Linked DNA regions of Homo sapiens: region 2 is linked to region 1. Evidence: fine-mapped QTL for protein levels in blood plasma. Region 1 holds a variant in brackets. A gene starts in the other region. All regions are shown on their reverse strands.

Region 1 (5,387 bases):
CAAGACAGGGATGCCCTCTCTCACCACTCCTATTCAACATAGTGTTGGAAGTTCTGGCCAGGGCAATTAGGCAGGAGAAGGAAATAAAGGGTATTCAATTAGGAAAAGAGGAAGTCAAATTGTCCCTGTTTGCAGATGACATGATTGTATATCTAGAAAACCCCATTGTCTCAGCCCAAAATCTCCTTAAGCTGATAAGCAACTTCAGCAAAGTTTCAGGATACAAAATCAATGTACAAAAATCACAAGCATTCTTATACACCAATAACAGACAAACAGAGAGCCAAATCATGAGTGAACTCCCATTCACAATTGCTTCAAAGAGAATAAAATACTTAGGAATCCAGCTTACAAGGGACATGAAGGACCTCTTCAAGGAGAACTACAAACCACTGCTCAATGAAATAGAAGAGGATACAAACAAATGGAAGAACATTCCATGCTCATGGGTAGGAAGAATCAACATCACGAAAATGGCCATACTGCCCAAGGTAATTTATAGATTCAATGCCATCCCCATCAAGCTACCAATGACTTTCTTCAAAGAATTGGAAAAAACTACTTTAAAGTTCATATGGAACCAAAAAAGAGCCCGCATCACCAAGTCAATCCTAAGCCAAAAGAACAAAGCTGGAGGCATCACGCTACCTGACTTCAAACTATACTACAAGGCTACAGTAACCAAAACAGCATGGTACTGGTACCAAAACAGAGATATAGATCAATGGAACAGAACAGAGCCCTCAGAAATAACGCCGCATATCTACAACTATCTGATCTTTGACAAACCTGAGAAAAACAAGCAATGGGGAAAGGATTCCCTATTTAATAAATGGTGCTGGGAAAACTGGCTAGCCATATGTAGAAAGCTGAAACTGGATCCCTTCCTTACACCTTACACAAAAATTAATTCAAGATGGATTAAAGACTTAAACGTTAGACCTAAAACCATAAAAACCCTAGAAGAAAACCTAGTCATTACCATTCAGGACATAGGCATGGGCAAGGACTTCATGTTTAAAACACCAAAAGCAATGGCAACAAAAGCCAAAATTGACAAATGTGATCTAATTAAACTAAAGAGCTTCTGCACAGCAAAAGAAACTACCATCAGAGTGAACAGGCAACCTACAAAATGGGAGAAAATTTTTGCAACCTACTCATCTGACAAAGGGCTAATATCCAGAATCTACAATGAACTCAAACAAATTTACAAGAAAAAAACAAACAACCCCATCAAAAAGTGGGCGAAGGACATGAACAGACACTTCTCAAAATAAGACATTTATGCAGCCAAAAGACACATGAAAAAATGCTCATCATCACTGGCCATCAGAGAAATGCAAATCAAAACCACAATGAGATACCATCTCACACCAGTTAGAATGGCAATCATTACAAAGTCAGGAAACAACAGGTGCTAGAGAGGATGTGGAGAAATAGGAACACTTTTACACTGTTGGTGGGACTGTAAACTAGTTCAACCATTGTGGAAGTCAGTGTGGCGATTCCTCAGGGATCTAGAACTAGAAATACCATTTGACCCAGCCATCCCATTACTGGGTATATACCCAAAGGACTATAAATCATGCTGCTATAAAGACACATGCACACGTATGTTTATTGCGGCACTACTCACAATAGCAAAGACTTGGAACCAACCCAAATGTCCAACAATGATAGACTGGATTAAGAAAATGTGGCACATATACACCATGGAATACTATGCAGCCGTAAAAAATGATGAGTTCATGTCCTTTGTAGGGACATGGATGAAATTAGAAATCATCATTCTCAGTAAACTATTGCAAGGACAAAAAACCAAACACCGCATATTCTCACTCATAGATGGGAATTGAAAAATGAGAACACATGGACACAGGAAGGGGAACATCACACTCTGGGGACTGTTGTGGGGTGGGGGGAGAGGGTAGGGATAGCATTAGGAGATATACCTAATGCTAAATGACGAGTTAATGGGTGCAGCACACCAGCATGGCACATGTATACATATGTAACTAACCTGCACATTGTGCACATGTACCCTAAAACTTAAAGTATAATAATAATAAAAAATAAAAATAAAAAAATAAAAAATTAAAAAAAATAAAAATAAAATAAAATAAATAAAAATAAAAATAAAAAGGATCACAAGAGACTCCAATTAACAGTTATACACCAA[T/C]AATTTGGATGGTGTTCAAGTTAAATGTATAAGAGTTACAGGAAATAAAAACAACATACAAAAATTATTTGCATTTCTATATAACAACATTAAACTCTCTGAAAAGGAAATGAAGAAAATGATTATATTGATGAAAAAGCCAAACTGTGTAAAATATCTAAAGAGATTTATTCTGAGCCAAATATCAGTGAACAAGGCCCAAGACATAGTCTCAAGAGGTCCTGAAAACATGTGCCCAAGGTGGTTGGGTTACAGGTTAATTGTATATGTTTCATGGAGACATAAGACATCAATCAATACCTGTAGGATATACATTTTTTTTGGTTCAGAAAGGTGGAAGAACTCAAAACAGGGACTTCCAGGTCATAGGCGGATTCAAAGATTTTCTGATTGGCAATTGGTTGAAAGAGTCATTATTTAAAGACCTGGAATCAATAGAAAGGAGTGTCTGGGTTAAGATGAGTGGTTGTGGAGATGAAGGTTCTTATTATGTAGATGAAGTCTCAAAGGCAGCCACCCTTAGAGGCAATAGATGGCAAATATTTTCTAATTCAGTCCTTTTAAGGGTGGTAGATTCTCAACTAATCTCCTCCGGCTCAGAAAGAGACCTGCAGTTCTCTACAAAATGTAAATTTCCCCCACGAGAGAGCTTTGCCAGGCCACTTCAACATATGTCAAATAAGTATATTTTGAGATTAAATACTCAATTTCCTTTAGGGCCTGCTATTTGTCATGTGATGCTCTGCTAGGATCGGATTGAATTTGGTATCATATTGCTACAAATAATCAGGTTGTCAGTGTAAAGATCTCTGTTTTAATGTTAATGCTGGTCATTTGTGCCTGAATTCCAAAGGAAGGAGAGTATAATGAGGCATAACTGAACCCCCTTCCCATCATGGCCTGAACTAGTTTTTCAGATTTTTTTTGGAATCTTCTTGGCCAAGAGAAAGGGTCCATTCAGTCAGTTGGGGGGCTTAAATTTTTACTTTTGGTTTATAATTCTATTTATGATAGCATCAAGAATAATAAAATACTTAGGCATAAACTTAAATGAAGAAGTGAAAGACCTGTACATTGAAAACTACAAAAAAATGCTGAAAGAAATTAAAGAAAACCAAATAAATGGAAAAACACCCCATGTTAAAACCTATCAAATTTTATATATTAATTATGTGCAGCTTTTTGTGCATAACAATTACACCTTAATAAAGCTGTTAAAATAAAGGGAACATTCTGAACAATAGTAGAGGATTAAGAGAGTTGGCTGACTGCAAAGGAGAAGATTCAAGAGTTTCAGAATTCAGTGGAGAAATAAGAACTGGATCAAGGGTCAGCAAAGTCAGTTAAATGAAATAAAGAAAACATATAGAATAAGCTTTGAGATCACAACACCTTTGAGGAGATGAATACAGTAGCTGATGACCAAATGATGTAATTACCCTGGGATGGAGTGATGCTAGTGCCCGTTCACCTCTTTGTTGGCAACCGGAGACACTGTCAGTTGGATTGGATGATCACTATGCTTAAAATGTTTCTAGCATTATTACTGCAACTGCTGTGACTCTAAGGACAGACATGACAACAATTACAAAATGCCTCTTGAATCTTTTCATTTTCCTCCACATTTACCATTTTATTCTACTCCAGGCCACCATCATCTCTTACCTGGAACGTTGCAATAGCCTCCAGACTGTAATCTCTGCTTTTGATCTTCCCTAGTTCTAGGATAATTCACCAAAAGTCAACCAAATGTGGGATGGTTTATTTGCTAACTCTCTTTGAAGTATTTATTTCTTTTTTTATTCTTTTTTTTACCATTTACAGTTATGTTCACCTTGTCTCTGCCTCAGCTTCCTGGTGCAACTGTAGCCAGAAGAGGAGAGAGAAGAGGACATTGGAGTGCACGAGAAGAATATATTATAAAAGAATATTGCTTGATTAAAAAGCATTTTTTACTGGATAATACTTCTTAATTTAGAAAAATACCAAGGAGGGCTTTAAAATTGTATCTACACATTGTGGATCTCTTTCACAGTCTCTGCACTTTCCCCACATTCCCTGTGAATTTTTTGTTTCTTCTTCCTTTTGACTTATTTTTTTTTTTTACAGACAGGGTCTTGCTCTGTCACCCAAGCCAAACTGCAGAAACATGACCATAGCTCACTTTAACCCCCAACTCCTGGACTCAAGTGATCCTCCAGCCTCAGCCTCTGGAGTAGCTGGGACTATAGGCACACACCACCACAACCAGCTAATTAAAAAACAAAATGTAGAAACAGGATCTCACACTGTTGCCCAGGCTGGGCTCCACTCTTGGCCTCAAGCAATCCTCCTGCCTTGGCCTCCCAAAGTGCTGGGATTATAAACATGGGCCACCATGCCCAGCCTCTTCATCCTCTTTAAATAGTATTGTTATCACAAATGCATGTATGCCTAAAGTAGCTGTATATTTAGTTGAGCTTGTTTTACATTTCTACACACATAATATTGTTACTGAAAAAGCAGAGGTTCGGTTTAGGTCCTGTCGCTTGCCACACAGAAAGCCATTCACTGAGATGCCAATTATTGACAAGGAAGAACGCTTTAATTGGATGCTGCCGCTGACGAGATGGGAGCTCAGTCTCAAATCCATCTGCCTGACTGACTAAAACTATGGGTTTATATAGTAGGGAACAAATGCAACAATATGCAAGAAACAAGAACTAGGGAGGGGCAAGCAAGCAATCATAATGAATGAAGGATCTGGCATCTCATTGTCTGGATGTGGTGCTCTGGTGAGCTTCAGTTCTTTGGTACTTTGAGAGGCTTGAAGGTCATTTACTGAGGAAGGAACTCAGATCGAACAGATGTAAGGTTCAAGCTTTAAGACCATAAGAGTCAATTTCTATGTTTACCCAAACAACTATCTATGGGACTATTGGGTTGTTTTCAGCATTATATTGTATGTAGTCTTCTGAGTCTTGATGATTTTTATTGAACATAGGCTTCTGCGGTTTATATATGTTACTGCACACAGTAGAAATTTTTTTCATTTTCACTGTCATACAATATTCAAATATGTGACAGCACCACAATTTTTCATCTATTTCCTGTTAGACTCTGGGTGACTTTCAGTTTTCTGATAATATAAAGAGTACTGGTATACACATTTTACATATCTTGCAGTCATTTGAATAGTTTTTCTAGGATATATACCTAGGAGTGG
Region 2 (5,387 bases), not on the chromosome of region 1:
AGACTCTCAGCACCCACCCACATTGGCCACATGGTCACCATCTAGAAGCAAGTCCATTCATTCATTCATTCAACAGTCCTGGGCATTGTGTCAGCCCTGGGACAACAGCAGGAACCAAGAAGCCCAAATTTCCATTGACATAAAAGTCATTTGGGCCACCACATGGTAAATGACAGATGTGCCACAAGTACTATAGAGGCACCAAAGAGGGCCATCTAGCCCAGCCAAAGGTGGAGAGGGAGACACCAAGCTAAGTGTTAAAAGATGAGGCATTAGTCAGCTGGAGGGGAGAGGCATCCTAATCAGAAGGTACACATCAGCAAAGGCATGAAGCTGGGAAACATTTTGGCTGGGAAAAGACAAGCTGTTCAGGTGACAGAAGAATAAAGGGCAAGCGGGAGAGGAGGATGGAGAGATAGGCAGGGGCCAGAACACACAGAACCTTCTCAGTCAGGAGCTGGAGCTTTAACCTGAAGCAGTAGGGAGCCATGGGAGCCACTGAAGGATTTTGAGCAGGGTCAGGCCCATGTGTTGGATTATTCATTCTGACAGCAGAGGCCAGAAGCTGGGGAACAGGTAGAGGCTATCCTAGGAGTCCTTGTGTGGAAGAATGAAAGAAACCTGAACCAGGATTGTGCTGAAAAGAGAAGGGGGTAGGGGTAAGGGTTAGATTTCAAGGACAATTGAACCTTCGGGGTGGCAAAACTGGTGCTGATTAGCTCTGGAGGCTGAGAGAGAAGGAAGAGTTCATGATAACCCCCACCTGCCTCACCCTGGATCCATTCCCTCTTTTGTGTTAATCAGACACTTACTGAGCACTTACTGTGTGCCAGGCATTCTTCTGAGTGCTTTACACATATTCACTCACTTAACCCTACAACCACTGTAGCTACAAGGGAATTATCCCACTGTTATCATCCCCATTTTACAGATGAGGAGACTGAGGCACAGAGAGTTTAATTTGGCCAAGGTCACAAAGCTAATAAGTAACAAAGCTAAGATTTGAACCCAGGCCATTTGGCTGCAGAGTCCCTGCCCTCACCACTGCTGAGGTTGAACCTGAGTCTTGTCCTGAATGTTTCCTGGCATCCCAGCCCCAGCCTCATCTCCTCCTCCTCATGTCACTCCCCATTAGGCAGCAGCATATCCCCTCAGTATCCCAACTGCCTCCCAGAATGTTGCCCCACTCCAAGGCGCACCTCTGTCTGAGAAGCAGCTCCCAGCCTGTGTGGCCCCCAGTCTCAGCCAGCAAGACTGTAGGGCATCAGGGATCTACAGGTGGGGAAACTGAAGTCCAACAATGAGTCACAGGCCTCAATCAGGGAGCTGTTGGCAGAGCTGCATCTGTGACGCCTGGTTTGTTGTCCACCTTTCCTCGATGTGCAGGCTGGCACAGCTGTGAACGGCAGTGCTGGGTGTGTGCAGAGCTCTTCCTAGATCTTTCTTACGTGTCATCCTGTCTGACGCCCAGGGCAGGGATCGCCAGCCCCATGTTTCCATCTGGAAACAGAGGCCTTTGAAGGGAAAGGGGTCCACCCAGAGTTACTTCAGCCAGATCACATTAGGCTGAGGTTAGAACTTAGGTTTGGGGCCCCAGGCTCACTGTTATGTTCCCCAAGGTGCATCTGTTCTCTCAGGCACCAGCTCCAGGGGTCCCTGAACACTGCCCAGCAACCTCCCCAGTCACCTGAGGGTGGCTGGAGGGGACAAGCTAGTTCAGCCCTCAGGGAGGGCAGGAAGTGGGTGAATTTCTCACTTTATCTCCTTTAATTCTGCATATAGACAGCCCGCCTCTCACCCTACCATAAATAGCTCTTCCTGACAGAAGTAACCAACCCTAAATCTGGCTTCTGTCTCCTGTGTGCATGTACATGTAATGTTTACTACATCTGCGTGTTTCACCAGGACATAAATAGTATTTTTACATGTTTTCAGACTTCATGTAAAGAGATCCTACTGTGTATTTTTTAGAGATTTTATTTCCTCCCCCATTCAGTATGATATCTGTGAGATTCAATCCACACTGGTATATACGTAGCTCTAATTCTGACCGCCTTTTACAGATGAGACACGGGATCGGCAAGGTTACAGGACTTGCCTCGAATCATAGGTCTTGTAGGTGACCGAGACAGAATTTGGACTGTGTGATCCAGAGCCCTCTCTGCTTCTGGATCCTGCTGTCACCCACCTCCTTAGCACCTGCCTCCTACTCCACGTGCCCACGCCCATCCTGCTGCCCTGCTTCCTCTTGTCCTCTCCTTGGCAGGCATGTGAAAGACCGTTTTCACAAAGGTGTTAAGAACTTCCCGGGTTCCCCCACTGAGGGCACATGCATTTGAGGAAGTGCTGGGGAAAGCTCATTGGAGTGGGAAGCCAGGGCTTTGGGTCTGGCTCTACCAGCTGTGTGACCCCAACAAATCCCTCTGAGCCTCACTTTCCTTATCTGTATTATGAGGCTGCTTATAGGGGCCTGTGAATTTTATTAGGCGGGTGCAAAAGTAATTGTGGTTTTTGCCATTTAAAGTAATGTAATACCATGTCAGGGACTCGGGGACTCTGTCACTGACCAGAAAAAGGAGAGGAATTCTGAAATAGCTTCAGCATGAGGAGCAGGGTAAGAGAGCCTGGTGACAGACCCTGGCCAGCACCCCTTCCATCCCAGCCAGCAAGGGCCGTGGCCACACTTACCATGTGCAGCATGTCTGAGGCCGTCGGGGATACCTGGGCCCGGTAGAGGTTGTGCAGCTCCACCATCAAACGTTTCTCCTCATCTGTGAGGGCTCCAACGGGGCCTGTGGTGGCCACCAGCAGTAGCAGTAGCGGCAGCAGAAGCATCAGGAAACTGCAGGAGCCGTGCATGGTGGCCAGCCGTCTCTCCTTCTCCCGTCCAGGGGTCTGGCAGCTGGATTTAAAGTCCTTCCCACACAAGCACCACCCTGGCTGGGGTGGGGCAGTGGGGGCCGTGTTTGAGGCCCAGCCCGACTCACACAATGTCTCAGGGAGGGCTGGGCGCTTTGGGTCCCGACCAGCATCAAGTGCACTCCCCTTGGAGTCCTTGGCAAAAACCTCCTTTCTCTTGGTAACGGGGGCTCAGGCCAAAAGCTGTGTGAGTTCCTAAGTTGTGGACAGATCCTTCAGGGGCAAAATCACAGTAACCTCTGCAGAGCTGTGACTGGTTGCACCCAGGTCACACCCACTGTGTGTTGAAGATAGATAAGAGAAAGGAAACCACAGACCCTACCCACAGAGGAGTGGGCAAGATGAGGAAGCTATAGGCTTTTGAAAGGACAGAGGAAGACCAGATGTATTTGATAAAAGGCTGAGCCAACCTAAATCAGAATCCTGGTTCTGCCCCTTGCTATCTGTGTTTTGGCAGCTTTCTCAAGTGAATCAGTGACAATAATAGTACCTATCTCACAGGACTAGAGGGAAGATTCAATGACATATAATGTATGTAAAGCACCTAGTATGGTGTCTGGCACATAGTAGGCCCTCAGTAACAGTAGACAACCCACTCATGTGGCCTGGGCCTTAGCAGGCTACCAGCCCCCTGTGGAGGCAACATTCTTGCCTGCGGGGGGAGAGGCCAAGGTCTTCCCCACTCTAGCTGTATTCAGGAATAAGGCCTTTCACTATGGCAAAATTTTGGCTTCCAGGTATCCTCTCTGAATGCATGTGCTTGACATGCTCATTTGGAAGTGGGATGCTGGGACCCCTGTGCTCTAACTATGTAGAAATATAATGTGTCTGTTTCTTAAATCAAGAGAGAGCAGAAAAGCAGAAGGTTGAATGAGCTGATGCACCAGGAGCTCTGAGGGGAAGGTATTGGAAGGGAAATAGCCTTAGCAGTCAGGTGCTGGCATTATAATGACCTTGACCTTGCAGGGGCCATGACCGGTTCATGAAGCAGGAAGCTGGAACCAGTACTCTTGAGGACAGCTGGGATCCTTGAAGCCTGCTTCTTCAATGAATAGGGACCTAGAAAAAGTCTACCCACAGGCTTTGGAAGATGACAAGAAAACCTGTCCCTGCCTGAGTCTCCAAGTAAAAATAAAAACAAAACCAAGATGGATTACACACACATACACACACACACACACTTATTAGAATTAATAAAGTCAGCAAAGTTGCAGGATACAAAATTAACACATAGAAATTAGTTGTTTCTATACACTAATAATGAAAAATCCAAAAAGGAAATTAAGAAAACAATTTCATTTATAAAAGCAATGAAAAAGAATAAAAAGAATAAAATTCTTACCAATAAACTTTTTTTTTTTTTTTGAGATGGAGTCTCGCTCTGTCACCCAGGCTGGAGTGCAGTGGCATGATCTTGGCTCACTGCAACCTCTGCCTCCTGGGTTCAAGTGATTCTCCTGCCTCAGCCTCCCAAGTAGCTGGGACTACTTGCCCACCATGCTGCCCACCATAGCTGCTACCATGCCCGGCAAATTTTTGTATTTTTAGTAGAGATGGGGTTTCACCATGTTGGCCAAATGGTCTTGATCTCTTGACCTCGTGATCCGCCCGCCTCGGTCTCCCAAAGTGCTGGGATTACAGGTGTGAGCCACTGCGCCTGGCCCTTAGCAATAAACTTAACCAAGGAAGCAAAAGACTTGTACGCTGAAAATCACAAGTGTTGACAAACAAAGTGAAAGAAGACACAAATAAATGGAAAGTCATCCTATATTCATGGATTAGAAGACTTGATATTGCTAAGGTGTCAATGTTGCCTGAAGCAATCTACAGATTCAATGCAATCCCTATTGAAATGCAAATCATAATATTTTTATAGAAACAGAAAAATCCATCCTAAAATTTATATGGAATCTCAAAGGACCCCAAATAGTCAAAACAATCTTGAAAAAGAACAAAATTGGAAGTCTTACAGTTTCTGATTTTAATATGTAACCACAAATCTACAATAATTAAAATAGTGTGGTATTAGTATAAAGACAGACATTTAGACTAATGGAATAGAATAGCCCAGAAATAAACTCTTACACATATGGTCAAATGATTTTAGACAAGGGTACCAAGACCGTTCAACGAGGGAAAGGCAAGTCTTTTAAAGAAGACTTAGAAAACTGGAATGTCCACATGCGAAATAATGAAGTTGAATCTTTACCGTAAGTATATTAAAAAATTAACTCCAAAATGGATTAAATACCTAAACATAAAAGCTAAAACTACAAAACTCTTAGAAGAAAATATAAGGGGGACTTCTTGGCATTGGATGTGGCAAGGATTTCTTGGATATGACACCAAAAGCATAGGCAACAAAACAAAAATAAATTGGACTTCATTAAAATTAAGAACTTTCGGGGGCAGAGTGTAGTGGCTCATGCCTGTAATCCCAGCACTTTGAGAGGCCAAGGTGGGTGGAT

Alleles and levels. Positions count from the first base shown, and alleles are read on the strand shown. Strength reflects both the effect of a copy and how common the allele is.
For the plasma level of the protein whose gene starts at base 2,882 in region 2, allele T in region 1 goes with a lower level than allele C (weak association).

What was found. A credible set is the group of variants that fine-mapping cannot tell apart. PIP is the posterior inclusion probability: the model's chance that the variant is causal. The UK Biobank Pharma Proteomics Project read protein levels with antibody pairs (Olink). The fine-mapping took linkage between variants from a reference panel, not from the people measured, so its PIPs are less certain.
Region 2: PI16 starts here. The variant in region 1 is the best candidate, but not a certain one, in a credible set for the plasma level of the PI16 protein (UK Biobank, PIP 0.55).

Annotation. Positions count from the first base shown.
Region 1 is chr1:219,099,374-219,104,760 of GRCh38, reverse strand. The region is part of intron 3 of LYPLAL1-DT (LYPLAL1 divergent transcript); the gene reads left to right. Among named protein-coding and RNA genes, the nearest start is that of LYPLAL1-DT, 72 kb to the left of the region's middle. The variant T/C (reference allele first, on the strand shown) is at 2,183.
Region 2 is chr6:36,952,233-36,957,619 of GRCh38, reverse strand. It overlaps PI16 (peptidase inhibitor 16), which reads right to left and starts at 2,882. Exons shown (of 7, transcript NM_153370.3): 1 at 2,689-2,882. The coding sequence starts at 2,859.